Linked DNA regions of Homo sapiens. The protein of the gene in region 1 purifies or fractionates together with the protein of each later gene. This does not show direct contact. Each region holds a gene or a part of one and is shown in the gene's direction. Other genes may lie near its edges. The genes, in order: TNFSF18, SLC19A2, CUX1, TMEM68, PTPN2, VMA21 and TLCD4.

Evidence for each region.
Region 2: the proteins of TNFSF18 (region 1) and SLC19A2 purify together in Homo sapiens (affinity purification with mass spectrometry; one large-scale study listed by BioGRID and IntAct). This does not show direct contact.
Region 3: the proteins of TNFSF18 (region 1) and CUX1 purify together in Homo sapiens (affinity purification with mass spectrometry, with the first as the bait; one large-scale study listed by BioGRID). This does not show direct contact.
Region 4: the proteins of TNFSF18 (region 1) and TMEM68 purify together in Homo sapiens (affinity purification with mass spectrometry; one large-scale study listed by BioGRID and IntAct). This does not show direct contact.
Region 5: the proteins of TNFSF18 (region 1) and PTPN2 purify together in Homo sapiens (affinity purification with mass spectrometry; one large-scale study listed by BioGRID and IntAct). This does not show direct contact.
Region 6: the proteins of TNFSF18 (region 1) and VMA21 purify together in Homo sapiens (affinity purification with mass spectrometry; one large-scale study listed by BioGRID and IntAct). This does not show direct contact.
Region 7: the proteins of TNFSF18 (region 1) and TLCD4 purify together in Homo sapiens (affinity purification with mass spectrometry; one large-scale study listed by BioGRID and IntAct). This does not show direct contact.

Annotation. Positions count from the first base shown.
Region 1 is NC_000001.11:173,047,712-173,052,378, reverse strand, and holds the start of TNFSF18 (tumor necrosis factor ligand superfamily member 18), read left to right. Parts: upstream 1-1,437; 5' UTR 1,438-1,482; coding exon 1,483-1,638; intron 1,639-4,667. UniProt on the Homo sapiens protein: Cytokine that binds to TNFRSF18/AITR/GITR. Regulates T-cell responses. Can function as costimulator and lower the threshold for T-cell activation and T-cell proliferation. Important for interactions between activated T-lymphocytes and endothelial cells.
Region 2 is NC_000001.11:169,475,736-169,479,768, reverse strand, and holds part of SLC19A2 (thiamine transporter 1), read left to right. Parts: intron 1-2,011; coding exon 2,012-2,614; intron 2,615-4,033. UniProt on the Homo sapiens protein: High-affinity transporter for the intake of thiamine. Mediates H(+)-dependent pyridoxine transport.
Region 3 is NC_000007.14:101,820,470-101,824,502, forward strand, and holds part of CUX1 (Homeobox protein cut-like 1), read left to right. Parts: intron 1-4,033. UniProt on the Homo sapiens protein: May be involved in intra-Golgi retrograde transport.
Region 4 is NC_000008.11:55,766,346-55,770,378, reverse strand, and holds part of TMEM68 (DGAT1/2-independent enzyme synthesizing storage lipids), read left to right. Parts: intron 1-4,033. UniProt on the Homo sapiens protein: Catalytic subunit of the alternative triglyceride biosynthesis pathway, which mediates formation of triacylglycerol from diacylglycerol and membrane phospholipids.
Region 5 is NC_000018.10:12,791,119-12,794,444, reverse strand, and holds the end of PTPN2 (tyrosine-protein phosphatase non-receptor type 2), read left to right. Parts: coding exon 1-167; 3' UTR 168-870; coding exon of another isoform or gene 871-922; 3' UTR 923-2,293; downstream 2,294-3,326. UniProt on the Homo sapiens protein: Non-receptor type tyrosine-specific phosphatase that dephosphorylates receptor protein tyrosine kinases including INSR, EGFR, CSF1R, PDGFR.
Region 6 is NC_000023.11:151,399,673-151,403,705, forward strand, and holds part of VMA21 (vacuolar ATPase assembly integral membrane protein VMA21), read left to right. Parts: intron 1-3,958; coding exon 3,959-4,033. UniProt on the Homo sapiens protein: Required for the assembly of the V0 complex of the vacuolar ATPase (V-ATPase) in the endoplasmic reticulum.
Region 7 is NC_000001.11:95,151,524-95,155,556, forward strand, and holds part of TLCD4 (TLC domain-containing protein 4), read left to right. Parts: intron 1-4,033.

The DNA of each region.
Region 1 (4,667 bases):
ACAAAATGGTTGGATTACAAAGCAGTATCTGTGGGCTTGAGTTTTCACTCCATCATTAACCAGCCAGCAGTGATTTGAGACACTACTCACACCCTCTTGTCCTTAGTTTCCTTTTTTTGTAAAGGAGGATGTTAAATCTCTGGACTTTTTTCTAATTTATAAATCGTCAATTCTCTCTTAGATTAAAAAATAGGTTTTCCAAAATACTTTCATTGTACTTCCTTTTGTTTAAGTAAACTTTAGGTGAATTTTATCTTGTGGGAAAGATAAAGAATGTTCATTCTTTTCTAGGATTTAATAATTGAATTAAACTTCACTACATCGCTAAAGAGGGTAGAGAAGAGATAATCTAACATTTATGGAATGCATAAACTTTTCACCTTCATTTCATTCTCCACAAAAGCATTATAAAGTGAAAATTTTCTCCATTTTACAGTGAAGGAAACTGAAGCTCAGAGAACTCAAGTAACATGCCTAAGGCCACAGAGCAGGTAGGAACTGGGCAGTGCCAGCCTCTGCTCTTGAGGTCTGTCTGATTTAAAAGCCTGTGTGACTGAGGTCCATAGAACCAGGAGACTTCCTCAATTTTGTAGTAAACCCATATTTTTGGGCCCAGGAAGAAAACCCAAGGTTTTTTTTTTTTTTTTTTTGGAATAGAGTATAAGCTCTGGCTGAGGGCAGGATGCAGGAAAATATCCTTCTGTAAAATAACTTCTTATGCCAGAACTAGATTATCAGAGTTTAAAAATGATGAAATATAAAATTGAGCTTGTTGTATTTACAATTTTTTATTAAATTCTTGTAATACACTTGATATTTTCTAGAGACTCAGAATGAACGCATTCTATACACTAGAAATTGATGAAACATTTTTGTGAGTATAGATTTTATTTTTCCAGGTTTACTGAAGTATAATTGACAAATAAAAATTGTGGGTATTTAAGGTAAACAAGATGATGACTTGATTAAAACTCTATTTTTTCCAAACTAGAGATCCTAGCCTCTCCAACTTCCTAACACTCTGCCGCTCATGTACATGATATCTGGAGTATGGTAGGGGGATTAATCTCAAACTTTATTTTTTCTTATAAAAAGTGATTTTCTTATCTAGAAATAATCTGGAATACTTTCTTAGATGAGAGCACACCACTTTATTCTCCCAAGCCTCCTCTACACGTGCACTGTACTGCCGTTTGATTTAGGAAAGAAATTTTTTTCCCCTCTGAACTTCCCTTGTGCTTTTTTTTTTATGTTCTGAGTTTGTGTTGGCTTTCAGCCTTCCGTTCCTTTTGTTGTATTTGATCTGGTGCCAAATGAGAGTCAGCACTTAAGTTATAAGTATCATTTTCTAACACAGTGACAGAAGGAAAACTCCGCCTTCCACACCCACTACTAATTACCATATTGCTACAAAACATGACATTGCATCCTTCACCCATCACTTGTGAATTTTTGTTTTCCACAGCTCTCATTTCTCCAAAAATGTGTTTGAGCCACTTGGAAAATATGCCTTTAAGCCATTCAAGAACTCAAGGAGCTCAGAGATCATCCTGGAAGCTGTGGCTCTTTTGCTCAATAGTTATGTTGCTATTTCTTTGCTCCTTCAGTTGGCTAATCTTTATTTTTCTCCAATTAGAGGTAAGGAGGCAATTGTACCTAAGGTTACTATTTGCTATAATCCTCTATTTATTTGTTTTTCTAGTTGTTATCATTGTCACTCAGTATTGTTAGCAATAGTTGGAAGGAAGAGATGTGTATACATAATGTAAATACAATTCTAATATTGTCATGACATGGCGTTTGAAGTTTATCTAAAGGTTTTGAGATAAAAGGTATCAGAAAATGCTAAATGTTAGCTGCAGAACTCTGTTAGATAGAGAGAACTGGTTAAGCCAATTGACAGGGGCCTGTGGAGTATTTTTCCTTCCCTCTGCTATAGCTCTTGGTGGAATAAAAAAGGTAAAAATATGAATGAATATCAAGGAATGGGATGCAAGCTATAGTCTTATTTATGGAAAAGACTTAAAAAAATAGTGAAAGACAGGATTAAGTAAATGACAGGTGGTTTGTGTGTCTTTGAGGAGGGAAGTGGCCCTGAGCTAGGTGTAAGAAGATCTGGATTCTGGTTCTGGGTCTCCTAATAACCAGCTGTATAAATTTGATAAAGACATTTAATCTCTCTAGTTTGCAGCTTCTTTATCTAAAAAAACTGGTGGTAGGGGAATGGATTTATTATGATGTTTCTTCTAGCTATAAAATGTCATGATCAAGAATTTATTTAAGGGTAGTATGAAGAATAAATGCCTAAGTCACTCAAAAGCAGGGAACAATGACTTTAGATTGAGTTGATCAGGGAAGACTTCATGGAGGAATGAGAAAGCCCATATCTATTTGGGAAGCCCCTGATGCTTGTCAGGAATTTCCCATTGAGATGCAGGCCAAGCTGTGGGCCTAGAGAATGGGATGGTACACTGGGAATGGAGATTAGTTTTGTTCTTTACTAAAAAATCTTTCCTCACAGTTAACTACGTAGCACTGATCAAAAAGAAAATAAGAAATGCTTTATTTATTTCAGGATTTAGCCTATTTCTGGCTAAATTTGAAGACTCTAAGTTTTGGGGAGAATAAAGTGGCATATGTCCATCTGAGAAAGAGTTGAAATGTGACTGCAGAAACACTTTTCTTAAGGGAACTGACCAGCAAAGATTTCAAAGATATAGTTCTACCACTTAAGATAAGTAAAAGTAATTGAGAAAAGATGCAGGAGGAAGCAGTCCCCTATTGATATTAATTTAGAGTAGGTATAGCTTTGGCCAATTTTTCCACAGTAGCCCATTAATTTGTATTCCATAACTGTATACAAGGCTTATGTGCAACAGAGGCATTTCTAATTACAACCCTGCTCTCTCAAGAAATGTATGAAGCAGAAGTGTGAACTTTCTGGGTCAGTGAAGTTGAAAGAAAGAATTGTCAGAAATTCTTAGTGTCTAGATTTCTGAAGAAGAGGAAGGGTGAGAATAGCAATAACTTAAATTTGGAAGTGCTTCTTTCTTCTAAAAATTATAAGATTAATTAGCCAGATAACCCTGAAGAACACTGAATATAAGCATCATCAGTTCCTACATATGACTCAGGAATGAATACACAGAAGCCTTTCCCAAAGGCACCCAGCAGTTCTTGCAAAGGGAAAGAGAAAGTCTAATAATGCCAGATCATCTGGGACACCTCTCTTCAGAATCAAACTGGATTAATCCCATGTGTTTGAGCTCTGATTCTGGTTTCTCTCTCCTAGATCCAGTTTCTCAATGAAATGTTCTACCTCTAAAGATAACCCAGAGTTTGTTTCAAATTTGGGGAAGTATAAAATGTTTTTAGAATATTGTTCTGACAGGACACTTGCAGGATTTGTTTCTATGGGAAAAGCCAGTGGCCTGGCCAACCATACATGATATTAGCTTCTGCATTTCACTTTCCACTTACCTGTACTTCCCTTTCCCTATTGGCCACAAATAAATATCTCTGGAAAAGAAGTCTGAGAGGCTGGCAGATAGTGATTCATTATGATGTGGCCACTTCCACATTGTCACAATACCCATGAACCGTGAAGTTTTATTTTGGTCTCCACTCTAGTTTTTACATACAAAGTCCCACTTTCCAGATTGTCTAGACACTACTTTAAAAAGTGTACACTTAAAAGAAAGTGTAACACTTTAAAAAGTGTTAGATGGGAAGCTTGGCTCCTTGGGTCAATTTTTTTCTTTTTTTCTCTCTTCTTTGAGAAAATATTTAACTAAAAGGATAGCTGTGAGTCCAAGGAGTTTGGTCAATCCCTCAGTGAAAATAATCTCACAGGAATTATCACTAAGAAATCAAATGTTCAGCAGAGTCTGAACTTCAGCAAAATGAAGGATACTTTCAGAAGGGGAAGTTGTACTTATACTTAAAAGCAGAGCAGATTTTATTTTCACTGATGATTTGATTAGGGTTGGTTTGGAGAGAGAATGATTGTTTTGGCCATTTTGAGCCGAACTACGTAAATCTAGCCTTAAATCAAGAAGAGGTTACAAAAGCAACTGATCCTTCTAAGCAAAAATAACGAACCCATATGTGTCTTTAAAAGTGGGTATTTACTACTTCCAAACATCAGCAGAATTATAAATAGAAACTTACCCCACAGAGTGGTAGAGGTGAGAGTGTTGACCCAGACAGGCTGGGTGTAGATCTCATTCTTGCCTTTTATTGGCTGCATGACCTTAGGCTAGTTACTTAATCCCTCTCATCCTCATTTCCTCATCTGCAAAATGAGCAACCTAATTTTTGTAGAGTTGTGCTAAGGATTAATGAGACAGTAGAGTATCTGACATAAAGTAGCTCCCAGTAGAGGGGAGTGATTAATATTTGCCCCATTACTATTAATGAGATAATAATGGGCAAAAATTTAACAAGACCATTTAACAATATGGATAGTCTTTGCCTACCTATATCACTCTCTCAATCAAACACTATATCTCAGAGCCAAATTTATGATTTTGCAATTAGATGGATTTTTAGTGGTGGCAATAATTAGAGAGTATCACAGTGATGGTCTCTGTAGCGCTAAATAGACATAAAGCAGCCTGCAGTATATTATACGGAATTTCTGACTCTGGAAATTAGTTTGGACTTAG
Region 2 (4,033 bases), 3.6 Mb from region 1:
TTCAGCCTTTTACCAAAACTACCTTTCAAAAAGCACTTAAAAGTTGAGGCCACTGACAAAAGGAAGGAAAAATCTCCTACAGTGATTGTTGTTGGAAGAATGGGAATGATAGCTCAATTAATTTAGTTAATTCATACTGCCCCAGATGTCCTTGTCAGCTTGTCCTCTAGTCTTCAGACTTTGTGAATAAATCAGGTGGAGTAAGTAATTTACATGTTGTGTCTCATTTACTTTTTGCAACAAACAACCGCCCTTTACTGATAATGGAGATTAAGGCTAAGGGGAACTAAAAGAATGTTGTCTACAATCACACAGCAAGTGATGGAACTGAAATTCCTGTTGGGGTCTTTCTGGTTTAAAGTTTATTTTAAAGATCATTTCTACTATATCCCAATTTTAAAATATGCATTAGAAAGAAAACAGCAAAAACTTCTTTTTTCTATTTAAAAACAAGCAAAAAGAAGGACATAAAAGTTGCCTATATTCCTGCCATCTAGAGAGACTTAATTCTGTCAAGACTGTAGGACACATTGACCATCTTTATTTGTTCCTCTGCCCCAAAAGAAACAAAACTTAAAGTCAGAGAAGCTTAATGAAACAGTAGGATAAAGGCTCCCTATCTTGTGTCTAGAAGTAAGAATTGACAGTGATTCCGTTTTCAAAGCATTTATTGAATAGTATCTTCCAAACAGTATGCTGGCTTTTAGACAGGTTATACAGGTGAATGTAGGGGTCTATCCTTAAAAAGCCTATAAGGCAGTTGTTCTCAACTCTGGCTCATTTAAAACTCTATTGGGAAGTTTTTAGAAAATATCTGTGGCTGGGCATTTTTTTTTTTTAAAGAGACAGAGTCTTGCTCTGTCATACAGACTGGAGTGTAGTGGTGTGATCATAAGTCACTGCAGCCCCAAACTCCTGGGCTCAAGCAATTCTCCCACCTCAGCCTCCTGAGTAGCAGCCATAGGCATGTGCCACAACGCTTGGCTAACACATTTTTTTAAAGCTTCTTAGGAGATGCAGCCATGGTGAAGAGCCAGTATTATGAATTAATTGGGGAAACTGATGCATATAGATCAGTATTAGGAGAGTTTGAGGCTAGGCCAGATGGCTCACATGTCTGTAATCCCAGCAGTTTGGGAGGCTGAGGCTGGTGGATTGCTTTGAGCCCAGGAGTTTGAGACCAGCCTGGGTAACGTGGTGAAACCCTATCTCTACCAAAAAAAAAAAAAAAAAAAAAAAAAAAAATTAGCTGGTTGTGGTAGTACAGGCCTGTAGTCCCAGCTACTGGGGAGGCTGAGGTGGAAGGATCACCTGAGCCTCACCTGAGGCGGAGGTTGCAGTGAACCATGATTCTGCCACTGCATTCCAGCCTAGGTGACAGAGGGAGACCCTGTCTCAAAAAAACAAAAAACAAAACCAAAAAAAAAAAAAGGGTTTGAATGTTGTAATACAAGTACTTTTGGCTTCCGCAAAGTCTTTCTGAATAAGGAAGTCTTTGAACTAGGCCTTGATTAATGGGAAGAATTTATTAGGAAAAAGATGATGGTATTGGGGATAGGAAAGGATATTTCAGGCTGGGCGAGGTGGCTCACCCTTGTAATCCTAGCGCTTTGGGAGGCTCCTCATTTGAGGTCAGGAGTTTGAGACCAGCCTGGCCAACATGGTGAAACCCCACCTCTACTAAAAATACAAAAATTAGCCAGGCGTGATGGTGGGTCCCTGTAATCTCAGCTATTCGGGAGGCTGAGGCAGGAGAATCACTTGAACCTGGGAGGCAGAGGTTGCAGTGAGCCAAGATCGTACCACTGCACTCCAGCCTGGGCGCAGAACAAGACTCCATCTCAAACAAAAAAGAGAGAAAAGACATTTTCAAAGTTATCTGAACTGCTGTTGTCAAGGTTGAGATCTTTGAGGTATTTGTAGGTTGTTTTTTATGAATAAATTCTTTATGAGTATTCCAGGTCCTTTCATCACTAATGTTTTTTGTTTTTTTTTTTTCTCTTTCTACCAGGTCTTCAATGAAATTTATCCAGTATGGACTTACTCTTACCTGGTGCTACTGTTTCCTGTGTTCCTTGCCACAGACTACCTCCGTTATAAACCTGTTGTTCTACTGCAGGGGCTCAGCCTTATTGTTACATGGTTTATGCTGCTCTATGCCCAGGGACTGCTGGCCATTCAATTTCTAGAATTTTTTTATGGCATCGCCACAGCCACTGAAATTGCCTATTACTCTTATATCTACAGTGTGGTGGACCTGGGCATGTACCAGAAAGTCACAAGTTACTGTCGAAGTGCCACTTTGGTGGGCTTTACAGTGGGCTCTGTCCTAGGGCAAATCCTTGTCTCAGTGGCAGGCTGGTCGCTGTTCAGCCTGAATGTCATCTCTCTTACCTGTGTTTCAGTGGCTTTTGCTGTGGCCTGGTTTTTACCTATGCCACAGAAGAGCCTCTTCTTTCACCACATTCCTTCTACCTGCCAGAGAGTGAATGGCATCAAGGTACAAAATGGTGGCATTGTTACTGACACCCCAGCTTCTAACCACCTTCCTGGCTGGGAGGACATTGAGTCAAAAATCCCTCTAAATATGGAGGAGCCTCCCGTGGAGGAACCGGTAAGCTCAGCCTTAAATATCTTGTAATTGCTACTATGGGGGCTGGACCCGTGGTGAAAAAAACAGCAAACTCCCTCTTGGTAGATCTTGTATTTATTTGGATTCATGTTTTATCCTGAGTTGGTTTATTGCTTTATTCATTCATTCATTCATTCATTCAAGCTATGGTTTATTTATATTAGGGATGACACATTTATTTTTTCCTGGAGTGCGTGACCTCCAAAGTCAGACTGATACAGCATTATATTGTTCATGTCAGAGATGCCTTGGATTGCAAGGGCTGTGTCTTCATCTTTTGAGTGTTTGGCATATAAATAAAGCACTCAGAAAATTGTTGCTAAATGAGTAGATGAAATGATTCTAATAAATGATTAAGTATCTACTTCTAGTTTCTGAATTGAAGCCCAAATTATTATTATTATTATTATTATTTTTGAGACAGAGTCTTGCTCTATTGCTGAGGCTGGAGAACAGTGGTGCGATCTCGATTCACTGCAACCTCCGCCTCCAGAGTTCAAGCAGTTCTCCTGCCCCAGCCTCTCCCTAGTAGCTGGGATTATGGGCGCTCGCCACCACGCCCAGCTAATTTTTGTATTTTAGTAGAGACGGGGTTTCATCATGTGGGCCAGGCTGGTCTCGAACTCCTGACCTCAAGCAGTCCACCAGCCTCAGCCTCCCAAAGTGCTGGGATTACAGGCGTGAGCCACCGCACCCAGTCATGAAGCCCACAGTATTTAAGGGTAAGAAGTTAATTTCCTCTTCTGTGCTAGAAGGGATATCTGTTATTTATTTTTCAAATGACAATTTGCTGAAGTGAAGTAGTAATGAATAATACAGACGAAGAGATCACAAGAGGACAGTTTGAGGTGGTGATGGAATAAATAGTAAAAGTGTGTTATGAAGCTGTCTCTTGGAAGAGAGAGGTATGGCATTAAAATAATTTATCCATCTGTTCTGTCTAGCCAGGAAGATGAATTCCTTTCCCTAGACACCCACCCTTTTTTTTTTTTAAATATTCAAGTGTTTTTTTTGTTTCTATTAGGTTATAAGCTGTGAGGAACAAAGTTAATTCCAGCCACACTGTAGTCTTAGTTTTCCTGGGACATGTTTGGAAATAAGCCTATTAACATTCCAGCTTTGTAGGTGGCCTCAGTCGGACTGAGCTCCATAAGCTTTGTAGGCTGGCTGATAATAAAGAACCATTATGAGTAAAGTCTTTCATTCTCTACTGAGAGTTAACTGAATTGTTTAAATGTGGCATCTAATGTCCTCATTGAAAATTACTCTCTTTTCTCTATCCCCGTTCTTCAGCTCTCAAATTACTACTTGAAATTTAGGTTATCATCCCAGAGAGCCTGGGTAGACTTGTAGAGCCTGGGCAACCCTCATCATGAAACTCACCTTGATTACCAGGGCACC
Region 3 (4,033 bases), on another chromosome or scaffold:
TCAAATATACAGGATCCAGGATCGTGAGTTATTGTAGAAATTACTTAAGACCTATTTAAAATTATTGAATACATAACTTTAAAAAATGTAATTGCTCTATGAAAAGTGACTTTTATTATAATTGTCAAAGACAGAAATTTGTCTGTCTTGTCCTTTTGTTTTGTCTGAAGCCCCGCGTTATCGCTGCAGAGAGAGAGTTTTGGTTTCCACCGAAATTTCCCTGCCTCCGATTGTTTAAACCAGACCCTTAATCTTATTTTAACATATTTAAAATGTTCACAAAACCCGGAAGAATTGTTTTGTGTAAGTAGCAAGCGAGTGTAGCTTAAACACTCAAGCAATTCTGGTATCTAATTGGAAACAGGTGGAATTCTTGGAATCCCATGTTTGAGTCTTTTTATAGCAAAGCCCAGGGACACTTTTCACTTATAGCCATTCGTTTTGTCGAAGCTATTTGAAGAGGGGCCCCACAGCCTCTCCTTATGTCCCACTGTTGCTTACCTGGACAAAGCAGTCGTGCTGGGCGCTTTAGGAACTGGATACCTGTGAATGCCTGGATGCCGAGAGAAGTGTGTGTGTGTGCCGATAATGGAGTGAAAAAGGAATCTAATGGTATAGTTAGACAAGCAATTTAATATCTGCATTGTTATATGACTTTAGAGCAAAGAATTTGTGAATTCATTTGTGATTTCTGACTTGATGAACCTTGACTGACCAGAGCATGTAGGTACATTTTATTATACCCCAATAATGATATAGAATTCAGAGAGAAGATACTCCCCCCCGCCCCCAAAAAAATTCTACATTTAGAGAATATAAGCTCCACCAGCAACCATAAAAGTATTAACTTGGTGAGGGGGATATTTTCTTTCTTTTTTTTTTTTTTTGAGACAGAGTCTCGCTCTTTCGCCCAGGCCGGAGTGCAGAGGCACTATCTCAGCTCACTGCAAACTCCGCCTCCCGGGTTCACACCATTCTCCTGCCTCAGCCTCCCGAGTAGCTGGGACTACAGGCGCTGGCCACCAGGCCTGGCTAATTTTTTGTATTTTTAGTAGAGACGGGGTTTCACCGTGTTAGCCCGGATGGTCTCGATCTCCTCACTTAGTGATCCGCCCGCCTTGGCCTCCCGAAGTGCTGGGATTACAGGCGTGAGCCACCGTGCCCGGCCCCTATTTTCTTTTCTTTTCTTTTTTTCTTTTTTCTTTTTTTTTTTTTTTTTTTTTTTTTTGAGACGTGGTTCTGTCGCCCAGGCTGGAGTGCAGTGGTGCGATCTCGGCTCACTGCAAGCTCCGCCTCCAGGGTTCAGGCCATTCTCCTTCCTTAGTCTCCCGAGTAGCTGGGACGATAGGCGCCCGCCACCATGCCTGGCTAGTTTTTTTGTTTTTTTGTTTTTTTTTTTTTTTGAGATGTAGTCTGGTTCTGTGGCCCAGGCTGGAGTGCAGTGGCGCGATCTCGGCTCACTGCAAGCTGAGCCTCCCGGGTTCACGCCATTCTCCTGCCTCAGCCTCCGGAGTAGCTGGGACTACAGGCGCCCGCCACCACGCCCGGCTAATTTTTTCTATTTTTAGTTGAGACGAGGTTTCACTGTGTTAGCCAGGATGGTCTCGATCTCCTGACCTCGTGATCTGCCCGCCTCGGCCTCCCAAAGTGCTGGGATTACAGGCGTGAGCCACCGTGCCCGGCCGATGTTTTCTTAAATATTAATGGCAGGGCCCTCTGGATTGACTGTGTTATTTGACCCATTCCAGTTTTCAAGGCGTGGTCTTGAAAAGCTGTCGATCACCCTGGTTTTGGGATGTGTTTCAGAACCAAGTTTCGATGGTGTGTCAGTGTTGGATTTTCCTGCTGAGGACAGCTAAGGTTTGGTATGGAGCAGTTTTGGATTTGCTGAGCTGTAATCAGTCCAGCTTCTCTGCTGTCTTCTGAGAAGGTTGATGGAGGAGAGTGGTCTTTGGCGGGGATGGAGGTTTCCCTGCAGGAAATGAACCAGGACTGAGGGGAACCTGTGCCGTTCCCCTCATTTGTCCTGCGCCTGAAACAGCTTTGAAGCACCTGGCTTGTGACTTAAAAGATTTTTAAAAAGCATTTGTGCTGCCCTATTCGGGTATTACACAGTGAGGGTGAACCATTCTTTTCGAAAGACGTCTAAGGCCGGGCACGGTGGCTCATGCCTGTAATCCCAGCACTTTGGGAGGCCAAGGCAGGCAGATCACTTGAGGTCAGAAGTTCGAGACCAGCCTGGCCAACATGGCAAAACCTCATCTCTACTAAAAATACAAAAATTAGCCTGGCGTGGTGGCGCATATCCATAATCCCAGATACTCGGCAGGCTGAGGCATGAGAATTGCTTGAGCCCAGGAGGTGGAGGTTGCAGTGAGCTGAGATCGTGTGACTGCTCTGCATGCAGCCTGGGTGACAGAGCGAGACTCTGTCTCAGAAAAAAAAAAAAAAAAGACATCTAATTTGTTGTAAAACCTGTCAAGAACCTTCCCTTTAAAAAGCTAATGCCTCTCTAATAAAAATAATTTTAATTTTGTTGTAATTAAATTCAGAGAGGATGATGTTAGTGCACAAAATAAAGATTGTCAATTTCTTTATTTTAATCCAACGGCATTTCCTAACTGCAGGAGGCCCAGGACCGTTGGCAGAAATTTTGTGTTGATTAGAGCCTCGGGCCATGGGAAGTGCAGGTACTGTGGCCACAAAGTTCGTCGCCCAATCCCTGGCTGACCCCACAAGCAGGACTGGTACAGATCCCACCCTCAGGGGTCTTCCTACACAGAGAAACATAATCACACAGGTGACTGGAACGGAGCCAAGGATGGTGGTGTTCCTCCTAGGGATTTACTAACACTGCCAGCAACTCAAGAACTAGCCAGCCGGGAGTTTCCTAGTAAGTGAAACTGACTTGGTTCTGCTTCCTTTCATGAAAACCTTTGTGAAAATGAGCCCAATAAGGGGTCCGAACCTTTATAAAGCACACGACCCCCCAGAGTGGACCGGGCCCTGGCCGACTCCATCAGCCGAAGCTTGAGATCTTGGATGGTCTGGATGGTCTTGACCGTGTGTGATTGATGCAGTTAACAAAGCAGGAAATTAACAGAGCTTACTCTGAGACACCAGGGAAGTGGCTTGTTCTTTCTTGGGGTTACTTTGAGTGGATGCTGGCACACTGCTTGTTTTCTTATAGATACCTTTCTATTGGGCTGTGTTTATTCAATAAGGAAATGCAGTTAACATTTTTTTAACAAGTAAACCATGGGTTATGAGGTGTTCCGAGTTTGGTTAAGGGAAAAACAAATTGACAAATTAGCTCTTTCTTAAGTGAGTATTGCGAAACAGTGAGAAATAGAATGCCTGTCGTACCGTCATTAAAAATTTATCTGGGTGTTGACAGCTTTTTGTTAAATGTAAGACATTCAGATCCTGTCCACCCAGCATATGAAAAAACCAAACCAAACCAAACCGAAAAACAAAATGCAACACAAAAGCTTCTTTCCATTTCCCCCCAAAAGCAAGACAATTTTTCTTAAACTGGGGCTTTCTCCCTAATGAATTGCCATGATTTTGTTTTCTCTAACATAGTTTAATATCTTTAAGACAGAACGAATATCAACTCTTTTTATTTTATTTTTTGAGACGGAGTCTCACTCTGTCGCCCAGCCTGGAGTGCAGTGGCACAAACTCCGCTCACCGCAACCTCCACCTCCCAGGTTCAAGTGATTCTCGTGCCTCAGCCCCCCCGAGTAGCTGTGATTACAGGTGTGCACCACCACGCCCAGCTAATTTTTGTGTTTTTAGTAGAGACAGGGTTTCACCATGTTGGCCAGGCTGGTTTCAAACTCCTGACCTCAAGCAATCCACCCCCTTCGGCCTCCCAAAGTGGTGGGATTACAGGTGTGAGCCGCCGTGCCTGGCCTCCACTCTTTTTAGACACCTTTGTTGAGTTGTTGTTTTGGGCCTGTAAGTTTCTCTGGCTTATTACCACTTTCCCCTCCTGTTTCTAGGGAAGAAATGATTATTTAGATAAAAA
Region 4 (4,033 bases), on another chromosome or scaffold:
TTAAAATAAAGTGATAAGAAGTCAGTTACACCCCCAGGTAAATTCAGGGGGAAGGGGAAGGGCCAGGCAGAAGTATAGGGAAGACAGAAATTGCAATCTTAATATTTTCTTTCTGTCAAGAGAGAAAAAGAGAGATATATCAAAGAAAGTGTGTTGGAAGCCAGACCAGGAGGTAAGATGACTAGATTTTAATTTTAGTTCTTGGCTTTTACTGAATTAATTTAGTAATTTTAAGCAAGCAAACTTGGCTTTCTGTGTTTACTTTTTTTGTTATCTGCACAATTAAGGGGTTGCATTGAGATTTAAAGACACTTTGTCATATTATCAAAAGTAAGTGCTACATTTTATCTACTGAAAGGCATTTTATTCAAATTCCTCTGATAGTTCTCTAGTAGCAGGTTTTAGGATACTGTTTTGATCCAGATTTCTGTTAAAGATTTAGATGAGGCCAAGCAGGGTGGCTCACGCCTGCAATCCGAGCACTTTGGAAGGTGGAGGCGGGCGGATCACTTGAGGCCAGGAGTTCCAGACAAGCCTGGCCAACATGGCAAAACCCCATCTCTACTAAAAATACAAAAATTAGCTGGGTGCAGTGGTGCTTGCCTGTAGTCCCAGCTACACGGGAGGCTGAGGTATGAGAACTGCTTGAGCCTGGGAGGTGGAGGTTGCAGTGAGCTGAAATCGAGCCACTGCAGTCCAGCCTGGGTGACAGAGTGAGACTCTGTCTCAAAAAAAAAAAGTTTTAGACGAACACAGTTCAGTTGTATATTTAGCCAGCATTTGTTAGGTGCCTACTATGTGCCAGAAAGTAAGTGTTTTTCGTATGTTTTCTTAGATAACTATTTTATTTACTGATATATTTAGAATAGTATCTGGCACAAACTTCTCAGGGCCATCCACTTGTACATTGTATCCTGTCCCCTTTGGCCTAGTCAAGGACAGAGCTCTAACAATTATCTCCTCTCCTACATCATCTGTTTCTCACTCCCATTGATGAATTATCGTTGACATTGAACATGGGTGTATTTTCTCCTATCTTTTTTTTTTTTTTTTTTTGAGATGGGATTCTCATTCTGTCCCTGAGGCTGGAGTGCACTGTCAGAATCTCGGCTTATATAACCTCTGCCTCCCGGGTTCAAGCAATTCTAGTGCCTCAGCCTCCCAAGTAGCTGAGACTACAGGTATGCACCATGATGCCTGGCTAATTTTTGTGTTTTTAGTAGAGACGGCATTACCATGTTGGCCAGGCTGGTCTCAAACTCCTGACCTGAAGTGATCCACCCGCCTTGGCCTCCCAAAGTGCTGGGATTACAGGCATGAACCACTGTGCCTGGCCCTTTTTTTTTTTTTTTTTTTTTTTAAAGACAGAGTCTCTTGCTCTTTCACTGAGGCTGGAGTGCAGTGGCTTGATCATTACTCACTGCAGCTTCTACCTCCCAGGCTCAAGTGATCCTCCCCCTTCAGCCTCCCAAGTGGCTGGGATCATTGGTACATGTCACCATGCCCGGCTAATTTTTAATTTTTTTTTCTTTTTGAGCAGAGTCTCACTCTGTTGTCCAGGCTGGAGTGCAGTGGCATGATCTCGGCTCACTGCACTCTCCACCTCCTGGGTTCAAGCCATTCTTGTGCATCAGCCTCCCGAGTAGCTGAGATTACAGGAATGCATCACCACACCTGGCTAATTTTTGCATTTTTAGTAGAGATGGGGTTTCACTGTGTTGCCCAGGCTGGTCTTGAACTCCTGGCCTCAAGTGATCTGCCCCTACTTGGCCTCCCAAAGTGTTGGGATTACAGGTGTGAGCCACCGCACCTGGCCTAAATTTTTTTTTTAGAGATGAGTTTTTACTATATTGCCTGGCTGGTCTTGAACTTCTGGTTTCAAGCGATCCTCTTGCCTCAGTCTCCCAAAGTGCTGAGATTACAGGTGTGAGTTACCATGCCTGGCCTCTGTCTTAAAGCAACAGCTGCAGCAGCAGCAGCAAGGAACAACTCACCTGTGTTCCCTTCTAGATACCCACCTGTTTCTTTCCTCCTTTGTGAGTTTTTATATTTGCTGTTTCCAATTCATTTTCTCCCATTCATTCTTGAACTTCAAGGGTAAAGGGGAGCTGCTTCTGTCCTCTCCTGTCCAAAGTGTTTTGTTTCCTACTATACAAAAACAGCTCTTACCAGGGTTTGCCAGTTTCCTTTGTGTTGTAAAATCCAGTGATCAATTATCATTTTTTTTTTTTTTTTAAAGCTGTCTCCTACAGGAAGGAAGTGATCTCTTACCTTACTAGGCCTGTCAACAGCATTTAAAACAGCAGAATATGCCTTCCTTCTTGAAGCTCTTACTTCCAGGATACTGCTTCTGCAAGGAGGAGGCTGGCTTGCCATTGTCTTCCCAACTTCTAAAATGTTGGGTGCCTCAAGACTCAGTCCTGGAAATTCTTTTTTTTTTTTGAGACTGAGTTTCGCTGTTGTTGCCCAGGCTGGAGTGCAGTGGCATGATCTCGGCTCACTGCACCTCCGCCTCCCAGGTCCAAGCGATTCTCCTGCCTCAGCCTCCCAAGTAGTTGGGACTATAGGCGTGCGACACCACGCCCGGCTAATTTTGTATTTTTGGTAGAGACGGGGTTTCTCCATGTTGGTCAGGCTGGTCTCGAACTCCTAACCTCAGGTGATCCTCCCGCCTCGGCCTCCCAAAGTGCTGGGTTTACAGGTGTGAGCCACTGTGCCTGGCCAGAAATTCTTTTTTACTCTATATTCGTTCCCTGGAGGGATCTTCTCTAGTTCCATGGTTTTAAATATTGTCTATATGCTACCAATTCCTAGATTTATATCAGGGCCATCCACTTATACCCTGTATCCTCCTCCTGATCTTCCTGCTAAACTGCTGATGTCCGGCTGCCTACTTAATGTCTTCACTTGGATGTCCAATAGACATCTTAAACTTAACATGTTTAAAATGGAATTCCTGATCTCCATCCCACCCTCAAACCTGTTCTTCCTGCAACTCTTATTTTTTCACAAGCAAGCGAATAATAATGATGATAGCAATAGTTAATGCTTATATGTGATAAGCATTAACTATGCTTAGATGCTTATAAGCAATAGTTAATGCTTATAAGTGAATAATAATGATGATAGCAATAGTTAATGCTTATATGGTAGAAAGCACTCTTCTAAGAGTTTTTTTACACGTAATCTTCACGATAGTCTTATTAGGTAGATGCTATTTTTATTTTACAAATGAAGAAACTGAGGCAGAAAGATATTTAAGTACTTGCTAGGTTTTTTTACACGTAATCTTCACGATAGTCTTATTAGGTAGATGCTATTTTTATTTTACAAATGAAGAAACTGAGGCAGAAAGATATTTAAGTACTTGCTAGGTCACATGGTAAGTGGCAGAGCCTCCCAGGATACAAACTCAGGTTGCCAAAACACCATATAATTATCTCAGATTCTACGTCAATTTATTAGCAAATCCTGTTGGCATTATCTTCAAAATATATCCAGAAACTGACCATTTCCTACTGCCTTCCCTCTGCCACATGTATGTAAGCCACTTTCATCACTTATTGCAAATATTCCTATTTGCTGCCTGTGTAGTATATTCTCAACACAGCAGCCACTTAAAACCCAAGCCAGGCAACCTCACCCTTCTGCTCAGTGCCCTCTGATGCCTTCTCCATCTCACTTAGATAAAAGCGTGCATAGAGGCCGGGCACGGTGGCTCATGCCTGTAATCCCAGCACTTTGGGAGGCCGAGGCGGGCGGATCACAAGTTCAGGAGATCGAGACCATCCTGGCTAACATGGTGAAACCCTGTCTCTACTGAAAATACAAAAAATTAGCCGGGCGTGGTGGCGGGCACCTTTAGTCCCAACTACTCGGGAGGCTGAGGCAGGAGAATGGTGTGAACCCGGGAGGCGGAGATTGCAGTGAGTGGAGATCACGCCACTGCACTCCAGCCTGGGCAACAGAGCCAGACTCCATCTCAAAAAAAAAAAAAAAAAAAAAGCGTGCATAGAAAGCTCTACAGTGTTGC
Region 5 (3,326 bases), on another chromosome or scaffold:
CAGCTCAGAAGGTGCAGCAGATGAAACAGAGGCTAAATGAGAATGAACGAAAAAGAAAAAGGTGGTTATATTGGCAACCTATTCTCACTAAGATGGGGTTTATGTCAGTCATTTTGGTTGGCGCTTTTGTTGGCTGGACACTGTTTTTTCAGCAAAATGCCCTATAAACAATTAATTTTGCCCAGCAAGCTTCTGCACTAGTAACTGACAGTGCTACATTAATCATAGGGGTTTGTCTGCAGCAAACGCCTCATATCCCAAAAACGGTGCAGTAGAATAGACATCAACCAGATAAGTGATATTTACAGTCACAAGCCCAACATCTCAGGACTCTTGACTGCAGGTTCCTCTGAACCCCAAACTGTAAATGGCTGTCTAAAATAAAGACATTCATGTTTGTTAAAAACTGGTAAATTTTGCAACTGTATTCATACATGTCAAACACAGTATTTCACCTGACCAACATTGAGATATCCTTTATCACAGGATTTGTTTTTGGAGGCTATCTGGATTTTAACCTGCACTTGATATAAGCAATAAATATTGTGGTTTTATCTACGTTATTGGAAAGAAAATGACATTTAAATAATGTGTGTAATGTATAATGTACTATTGACATGGGCATCAACACTTTTATTCTTAAGCATTTCAGGGTAAATATATTTTATAAGTATCTATTTAATCTTTTGTAGTTAACTGTACTTTTTAAGAGCTCAATTTGAAAAATCTGTTACTAAAAAAATAAATTGTATGTCGATTGAATTGTACTGGATACATTTTCCATTTTTCTAAAGAGAAGTTTGATATGAGCAGTTAGAAGTTGGAATAAGCAATTTCTACTATATATTGCATTTCTTTTATGTTTTACAGTTTTCCCCATTTTAAAAAGAAAAGCAAACAAAGAAACAAAAGTTTTTCCTAAAAATATCTTTGAAGGAAAATTCTCCTTACTGGGATAGTCAGGTAAACAGTTGGTCAAGACTTTGTAAAGAAATTGGTTTCTGTAAATCCCATTATTGATATGTTTATTTTTCATGAAAATTTCAATGTAGTTGGGGTAGATTATGATTTAGGAAGCAAAAGTAAGAAGCAGCATTTTATGATTCATAATTTCAGTTTACTAGACTGAAGTTTTGAAGTAAACACTTTTCAGTTTCTTTCTACTTCAATAAATAGTATGATTATATGCAAACCTTACATTGTCATTTTAACTTAATGAATATTTTTTAAAGCAAACTGTTTAATGAATTTAACTGCTCATTTGAATGCTAGCTTTCCTCAGATTTCAACATTCCATTCAGTGTTTAATTTGTCTTACTTAAACTTGAAATTGTTGTTACAAATTTAATTGCTAGGAGGCATGGATAGCATACATTATTATGGATAGCATACCTTATTTCAGTGGTTTTCAAACTATGCTCATTGGATGTCCAGGTGGGTCAAGAGGTTACTTTCAACCACAGCATCTCTGCCTTGTCTCTTTATATGCCACATAAGATTTCTGCATAAGGCTTAAGTATTTTAAAGGGGGCAGTTATCATTTAAAAACAGTTTGGTCGGGCGCGGTGGCTCATGCCTGTAATCCCAGCACTTTGGGAGGCTGAAGTGGGCAGATCACCTGAGGTCAGGAGTTCAAGACCAGCCTGGCCAACGTGGTGAAACACCATCTCTACTAAAAATGCAAAAATTAGCTGGGCATGGTGGAGGGCACCTGTAATCTCAGCTACTCAGGAGGCTGAGGTAGGAGAATTGCTTGAACCCAGGAGATGGAGGTTGCAGTGAGCTGAGATCACGTCACTGCACTCCAGCCAGGGCGACAGAGCGAGACTCCATCTCAAAAGAAACAAACAAAAAAAACAGTTTGGGCCGGGTGTGGTGGCTCACGCTTGTAATCCCAGCACTTCGGAAGGCCAAGGCGGGCGGATCACGAGGTCAAGAGATGGAGACTGTCCTGGCCAACATGGTGAAATCCCTTCTTTACTAAAAATACAAAAATTATCTGGGCGTGGTGGTGCATGCCTGTAGTCCCAGCTCCTTGGGAGGCTAAGGCAGGAGAATCACTTGAACCCGGGAGGCAGAGGTTGCAGTGAGCCGAGATTGCACCACTGCACTCCAGCCTGGCAACAGAGCAAGACTTCGTCTCAAAAAAAAAAAAAAAAAAAGTTTGAAAACCATTGGTATAGATAGATATTTTGAATTGATTTGCATAGTCTCCTTGAATGTGTTAAATTATGTTGAAAGTATGAAAGCAGGATGTAGGTGGTACTACATATTAAATAAGATTTATATAACATGTGCCTGTGTCCTGATTCAGTATTACTGTGTCCTGTAACCTTGAAATGGAGAGGAGGTAAGAGGGACATTTTTTTATGTCTGTCTGCATTAAACCTGTGTTGAGGCATCCAAGACCCTTACATTTCAGGTTGTTATTGGTTTAAAACCTCTTTCCAGTTTGCATTGGTTTGTCTTTGCTAAATGCAGTATGTTTATGTTACTCTGCAAGTCACATACAGGTAGACCTTATGACATTTCCAGTTGAAACTAGGCTTGCTTTCGGTACACAGGTGAAGACTTGAGGAAGCCAGTGCCAGAGAGGACGTGCCTCACCCCTCAGCTGGCTGAATGCGCTTCATTGGCTTACGCTTTGCTTTCTGTATGCTTTCTGTCCTTCTGGGTGGTGTCGCATATATTTTTAAAACCACATTCAGTGTGATGAACACTTGTTGGTACACTTCTAAGGTTAGTCATCTTTCCTTCTCTGAGCAGATCCTTGAGAAGGGCATTGACAGTGGATGCTTTAAATAGTGTTCAGTTTTTACCAGTAATAATATTTTTTGGTGGATGTCATGAAAACACATGACATCGTGTTGTGCCCATGATAAAAAGTCCTGACTTTTTATTGAATGAGGTGTGCTGGTCAAAGAGACAGACGTGGCTGCCTTCTCTGGTAACAGCCAGAGGAAAAAGTTAGCAATTCTAGATGGGTTCTACAGCTTTAAAAAACTTGTTGTATCCTTAGGTCCTCATAATATTAAATATTTTCTAATTTTAACAGATTTTAAGAGTCAGATATATACTTTGACTTGAATGATGTAGTGTTGCTTAAGGAAGAAAAAATTATAAAAAAAATGTTTCTTTTATTTTCAGGAGTTTTTAATTCATATCTAGTTCATTTCCACTCATATCTATTTCTGCTAATAGATTGACAGCAACCTTTGGTTTAATGCTGTGTTCTCTAGCTACACCAACAAGTTATATATTCCTTTCCAATATTAACCAAGTATTTATTTTATGTTAGCCTATGACTGAGTTTTATCTATGCTTGC
Region 6 (4,033 bases), on another chromosome or scaffold:
TTAAGGGAGCTTATGTATATTAAATGAGAGTTGTATAGCTCAGTAATAACCAAAATGAGGCCTGCTAAAAGATGATCCATTTAAGTACCAAAAGAAAATATTAGAACTTTTTTTTTTACAGCAGTAAGCATTTAATTTCTCACACATGTGCAGAGCATGTGATCAAGAAATAGGCATGAGGTTAGTTATATTTAATATATATTTTACTCAATGTTTTTGTGGGTTTTTTGTTCAGGTTCTTTTTAAATAAATTTCATTGTGTATATTTGAGGTTCATAACATGATGTTATGGCATACATATAGTAAAATGATTACTATGGTGAAGCAGATTAATATATCTGTCATCTCACATACTTTTGTGTGTGTGTGACCAGAGGCAGCTAAAATCTTATTTACAAAAGTCCCTAATACCATGCAACTTTATTGCCTATAGTCCTCTTGTACATTAGATATCTCACTTGTTAATCCATATATCTACTGCTTTGTGTCCTTTGATGTATATCTTCCTATTTCCTCCCCTCCAGCCTCCCACCCCCACCGCCATGGTAACTACTGTTTTATTCTCTGTCCCTGTGTAGTTGACCGTTGACCTTTTTTTTTTTTTTTTAAAGATTCCACATATAAGTGAGCTCATGTAGTATTCGTCTTTCTGCGTTTGGCTTATTTTACTTAACATGTCTTCCAGGTCCATCCATGTTGTGGCAAATGGCAGATGTCCTCTTTTAAGGCTGAATAAAATATTCCCTTGTATATATACACTACGGTTTCTTTATTTTGTCTGTCTACATACACGTAGGTTGTTTTCAAATCTTGGCTATTGTGAATAATGCTGCAATGAACATGGAAGTGCAGATATTTTTACGAGGTAGTGATTTCATCTCCTTTGCTTATATTCCAGAAGAGAGATTGCTGGGCTGTGTGGTAGTTCTATTTTTAATTTCTTTAGGAACTGTTTTCCATAATGGCTGTACCAGTCTACATTTCCAGTCACAATGTAGTAGGGTTTCTTTTTCTCCACACTTTTACAAACATTTGTTATCACTTGCCTTTTTGATAATAGCTGTCCTTAGAAGTGTGAGGTTATATCTCATAGTGGTTTTGATTTGCATTTCCCTGATGATTTAGTGATGTTGAGCACATTTTCATTTATCTCTTGGCCATTTTTATGTCTTTGGAGAAATGTCTGTCCAGCTGTTGTCCATATTTTAATCAGGTGGTTTTTCTGCTGAGTTGTAAGAGTTCTTTATAAATTTTGGGGTATTAACCCCTTACAAGATAGGTGGTTCGCAAATATGTTTTCCTAGTCTGTAAGCTGCCTTTTCATTTTGTTGATTGTTTCCTTTGCAGTACAGAAGCTTTTTAGTTTGATGCAAGCCGCTTTATTTTTTCTTTTGTAGCCTGAGCTTTTGGTGTGATATCCAAAAAATCATTACTGAGGCCAATGTTAAGGACCTTTCCCTCTGTGTTCTTTTATGTCTTAAAACTTTATATCTTTATGTTTTAGTTATTTTATCCATTTTGGGTTGATTTTTGTTTATGGTGTAAGAGTCCAGTTTTTTTCTTTGCATGTAGAAATCCTGTTTTCCCAGTACCACTTATTGAAGGGACTGTCCTTTCCCCATTGTGTTCCTCTTAACACCCCTGTCGAAGATTAGTTGGCCATATATGTTTGGATTTATTTCTGGGCTCTATTCTGTTTCATTGTTATATGTTTCTGTTTTTATGCCAATACCATATTGTTTTGATTACTATAACTGTAATATTTTAAATCAGAAAGTGTGATGCTTACAACTTTTTCAATGTTGCTTTGGCTATTTGGGGCTTTTTGTGGTTCTGTATGATGAATTTTAGGATTGTTTTTCTATTTTAATGAAGAATGCTACTGTAATTTTGATAGAGATTGTGTTATATCTGTATGTTGCTTTGGGTGCTGTAGACATTTCAACAGTATTAATTCTTCCAATCCATGAACACAGGATATCTTTACATTTATTTGTGTCATCTTCAATTTCTTTCATCAGTGTTTTATACTTTTCAGTGTACAAGTCACTCATCGCCTTGGTTAAATTTATTCCTAAGTTTCTTTTTTTTTGAAATAGAGTCTTGCTCTGTCACCCAGGCCAGAGTAAAGTGCCCCAATCACTGCTCACTGCAGCCTTGACCTCTGGGGCTCAAACAATCCTCCCACTTCAGCCTCTTGAGTAGCTGAGATTACAGGCACGTGCCACCATGCCCAGCGAATTATCAAAATTTTTTTTTGTAGAGGTGGGGTTTTGCTGTGTTACCTAGGCTTGCGTCAAACTCCCGGCCTCAAGCCTCAGCCTTCCCAAAGTGCTGGGATTACAGGCATGAGCCACTGAGCCTGGCCCCTAAGTATTTTTTTTTAATGCTATTATAAATGAGATTGTTTTCTTGATTTCTTTTTCAGCTCAGTAAAGGATGCGGAAGTTTGTCAAGTGCTTTTTCTGCATCAACTGAGATGATCCTACTTGGTCATAATATATAATCTTTTTGATGTATTGGTTTTGTTTGTTTGTGACAGAGTCTTGCTCTGTTGCCCAGACTGGAGTGTGATTTTGGCTCATTGCAACCTCTGCCTCCCAGGATCAAGGGATTCTTGTGCCTTGGCCTCCCAAGTAGCTGGGACTATAGGCACACGCCACCACTCTCAGCTAATTTTTGTATTTTTAGTAGAGACTGGGTTTTGCCATGTTGGCCAGGCTGATCTCGAACTCCTGGCCTCAAGTGATCCGCCTGCCTCGGCCTCCCAAAGTGCTGGGATTACAGGTGTGAGCCACCACACCTGGCCTGATTATTGTTGAATTTGGTTTGAAAATATGTTATTGAGGAATTTTGCACCAGTGTTCATCAGTGATGTTGTCCTGTAGTTTTCTTGCTGTGTCTGTCTGGCTTAGGTATCAAGGTGATTGGAGCCTCTTAAAACGTGTTTGGAAGTATTCCCTCTAGCTCGATTTTTCACCCATAACAGAAGTTCCTATTCCAGCTGGGGAGGGCGCACTGGTCCGTTCGCCCTGCCTACCTCCTTCAGTGGTCTGGTGTCTGGTGCTGGTGGTCAGGGTTGCTGCACGGGCTCAGGGACTGGTGTGGCAGTGGCTTCCCTGGGCCAAAGCTCTGATCCCAGTGGGGGAGGGCACGCTGGTGCGTCGGCTCCACCTGGTTAGTTTGCTGGTCCACTGTCTGGTGCTGGAGGACAGGAGGCTGGCAGCTTTCCCAGATGCAAGCTCCGATTCCAGCGGGAGAGGGCACACTGCTCCACCTGTGGTGCCTGCCGAGTTCCCTGGTCTGGTGTCCGGTGCTGGTGGTCAGGGTTGCTGCGTGGGCTCAGGGACCAGTGTGACAGTGGCTTCCCTGGGCAAAAGCTCTGATTCCAGTGTGGGAGGGTGCACAGGTGTGTCTGCCTCGTTAGTTCCCTGGTCCACTGTCTCATGCTGGAGGACAGCAAGCTGGTCGCTTCCCGTGACGGAAGCTCTGATTCCAGCAAAAGAGGGCGCGCTGATCCACCCATGGTGCCTGCTGCGTTCCCAGCTCTGGTGTCTGGTGCTGGTGGACACGGTTGCCGCATGGGTTGGGCACTGGTGCCGCTGTCCGCCGTGGCTTCCCTGGGTAAAAGCTCCAGTTCCAGAGGCAGGGGCACTGAGTTTCTTCACTTAGTTTGTTCACCCAGCTTGTTGGCAGTTGATCTGAGGTGCCCTGACGCTTCGTCTTACACTGGATATGAATGACAGTCCCTAAAGGTGGTGTATAATCTTCATGTTCCAGCTCAAGAAATTCCCACTACCCACAGCTGGTTCTCTAGGATCTTCGGATTACGAGTCCCTGCCTGTGATCTTCCTCCTGCATAGCATCTCATTTGTGGATGTTTATAGTTTCAGGGACATAAGAGCGTTTGGATATGACTGTGCAGGTTCTGATTTTCTCTTTGTTTACTTTATTCCAGAAATGAAAGCTCATTAGCATCTACACTGAAGACGCTCCTGTTCTTCACAGCTTTAATGATCACTGTTCCTATTGG
Region 7 (4,033 bases), about 78 Mb from region 1:
ATCTCCAGATGCATTCAGGGATTGCTTTTGTGGTATGCTATCTTCTGTATTAACTAAAATAATACCTTTATGTGTGTCTGTGTTGGTGTTGGTGTGTCTGTTTGTATTCATAGATTTTGAGACAGACAAATGACCCTAATTCTTTGAATTTCCATTTAAAACCTTCAGGATTGTTGTAGCTATAGATATTTGTCTGTATTTCTAGATGCATTTATGATTTAACAGCAAAGAGTATGAGCCAGCGAAAATATTTCTTTTCTGTTTAATTCCATGTGCAATTACATATACATAATTACATTTAAGTAGGTTGGAGCAGTGGAGAAATCTTGCTCAGACTTTTTCAGAATTCCAAGACCAAGGTTAATAGAGGATTCTTCCAACAGATCTCAGGCAGTAAAGCATATTAAATTATATATCTAAAATTTCTACATATACATATGTAAACTAGCAACTTTATATTCCTTGTATGTTTGTTAGGTTTCTCTAGAATCAATTGTTTTTCAACATAAATATACCAACAAGCTCAAGGTAGATATTGCAACTGCAATTTTTTTCATAAAGATGGTTGCTTTTTTGATATGTCTATGTTCTGTTGTTATAGTTTAAAATTTGTCTTTTAAAGTGAATCTATTCATAGGGAAACAAAATAGGAAAAGTTAGATGAAATGATGAATGTTAACAGATGCTATAAGGATCCTATGTTATTTACCAATCTTACAGTAGTTACTCATTGACTATAAGAAGGTTTTTTTCTATGCAGTGAATTCCCAGGTCATTTTGTGCATTTTGTTATTCCAAGTAAAGCTAACAAAAATAATAATAATTATAATTTTGGGGGGGTAAATGATCATGAAATTCTTATCACTTATGCAATAATGAGAACTTGTATTTGGAAAGCACTTTGACTTAATACTTATGTAACCATTTAAGCTGTTTGCAGTAAGCTTTTTTTCTTAAATGATTTTGTTATTAGAACCAAAGTAAAACTTAAAGTGATGAATAGAAGCAAGTTCCCTGCAGTTTTAAAATGTATCCTTACTGAAGAAATAGTTGAAAAGTAAGATTCTTTGGAATTTAAGGTATTATAGGTTATATAATGTCTTGATTGCTATTTTTGTATCTTTCTACTATATTTACTGACGTTTTGAAATTCTCTGGCAAAGTAATTTAGAGCTTAATGAATCCTCTTCTGTCTATATAGAGAGGTACAAATCCTACAGCCTTTTTTCCTGATACTCATCTTTCACCCCTGGAGCAGGATACTAATTATCAAATAAACCTGACAAGCTGATCTCTTATTCTAAGAGAAATGAACACATTTATGCTTTAATCCTCAATTTTTAAGGACAAACTACCATCCTTTGTACACCCTTTCTGACTACATTGATAGCCTTCACTTTTTGTGTATGTGTTCCTTGTGAATCACTTCTTTCTCCAATTAAACCATGCCTTTAGATAATGAGTTAGAATATATTTGGAAAACATTTAAACTTGAAAATCATTCAATATGCATCAATTTCCAAGCCCACCATATTATTATTATTTATTTTCTTTTTTTTTTGAGATGGAGTCTTGCTCTGTCACCAGGCTGGAGTGCAGTGGTGTGATCCTGGCTGGGCAGAAGGGATAATGGGGAATTACTGTTTAATGGTACAGAGTTTCCATTTGGGAATATGGAAAGTTCTGGAGATGGATGGTGGTGATGGTTGTATAACAAAATGAATGTACTTAATGCCACTGAATTGTACACTTAAAAGTTGTCAAAAGGGTAAATTTTATGTCATATATATTTTGCCATAATAAAAATGTTAAAGCAAGCTTATGAGATAACTGAAACAAAGTTAGGAAGGAGAACTAATAACATATTGGACAATGTTATTACATTTTTAGAAAGGCTTCATCCTAACTATAAACTGAAACAAATGGGTGGAACTTAATAGTGATAAATGTTAAGTTTTGCATTTAGGTTCAACGATGCATAAGGATAAAGAATGACCTGGAGGTGGTAGATGATTGCATCTCAGTTATGCCAATTTATCACATCTGCTAAAACAGAAAGCTTTTTCAAATTTAGATTCTATTAGAGGAGGCCTGGTATCCAATTCACACGTAGTTTGCCCAGTCAGACCACATCCAAGACCATCATCATCTGAAGTCCCTAAACTTGCATGTATCTGGAAGAGAGCTGCTAGTTAACTGTAGAGAGGAGATATTAGATTAGGTAGCTATTGTCTTATAACAAACAATTGAAGGACCTGGAGATGTCAGCCTAGAAAAGCTAAGAACTATAAGGACATGATGGCCTTGAAATGTCCCTGGAAATGTGAAAGGACTACTAAGTGGAAGGGGGAGTAGACTTATTCTGGATTGATTCTGATGTTGGGACTAGGACCAATGGGGTGGTAAAGAGAGGTAGGGGAGACTTCTATTTTATGGAAGAAAGACATCCTCAGTGATTGGAAGATTATCACAATGGAAAGGCCTTTTAAAGTGGCTATTCTACCATAAGATAGCTTTAGTCAGATAGATATAAAAGTAGATACAATCAGCAGAAGCTTTAGGTAGGAGCTTGCACTAAATAATCTTTAAGGTTCTATTCTAATTCTGAGATTCTGTGATGCACCTGTTTTGTTGAAATGATTTGATTTAGTTCTGATGCAAGAGAACTAGACAATGGGGGAATTAACAATAAGCTAAGTTATGTCACCAAGTTCTTAAGTAACCCTAGGAGGAAGAGGTGAAAGCAGCTGGCCTGCCAATCCATTCACTTCCTTGGGGGACAGGAGGGGAGAAAAAGAAGGCACGTGGCCCAGTCTAATCTCCTTGTCAACAGGACTTAGGATAAATTGAGTACTGATGTTTGTTAGGAAGAAGAAACATTAACTCTGAAATGCCCTTAGCAGTGTGTCCCTGGGTAAGGATTACCTATAGTAAAGAGAACCCAGTATCTATAAGGCACAGCTCATTGGAGAAGGTCATGTAGGCACACAGCAAGGAAATAAATAACTGGGTTGCCAGTGGCCCTTGATGTCCCAGACCTCTCTCTGCTTCATTTGAATTATTTGATGGTCTCTATCTTTGTAACATTTAGTAGAGCTTAATGCTAGGTAGGAACACTGTTTCACATGAGTCTGATTTGGCAGTCCAGTCCTGTGTGTTAGCTCAAACCTTCATCTCTGTCTTATAAGCAAATAATCAAAAACCTTGAATGATTACAATTAAGCAAATAATTATTAAACATAGTAATAGATTTTGTTTCCAAACCTCAATTCTAGGTTGATGGTACCCTGAAACGGTTTCCATTAATAGGTAATAGACTGACCCAGAGTCTCAAGCACAATTGAAATGTGCTTGAGACTCTGGGTCAGTCTATTACCTGTTAAAAAATGCCCCATCATTGCCACTATAGAACACGGTCACGTTTTTACACAGGATTCCAATTTGGGATGCCCAGAACTTATTTCCTACCAACATATAGTCGTAGTGTAGTGTAGTGCAGTGCAGTGCAGTGTAGTGTAGTATAGTAGGGAAAGGGTGCCCATTTCTGTCCAGGCCTTTGGTGGTAGAACAGTCAGTATTTAGTACCATACTAGCAGTAGTAGGTGCATAATTTAGTTCTCTTTTCCCCCCCACCTTATAAACCTCTGGTCTTAGCCACTCTTAGCTGGTAGAAAAATTTCCCATAGTAAGAAAATCCAGACTTCCATAATCGCTTGCTAAAAGGAGAATTTTCTTTTAAGCTGCGGAAGGGATCAGAAAAATCCTGTTTTGTTTCCCCTCACAGTCATGCAGAGGCCATGGCAAATGTAGATTTTACTCTATGCAAAGCTCCTTAAAGGTAGATGACAGAGTAGAGACACCACACTAACCATAAATAACTTGTGAGTTTTGCCATAATTTACCAACAATAAAGTATCAGAATTTGTAATTATTTAAAAATATTATAGAAAGATTTAATCCTATCCCTTTAATAGCATCTATCTCATTTGTATTTTAGTAGGTTTTCTTGAATAGGAGAGAAAAGGATAAAGTA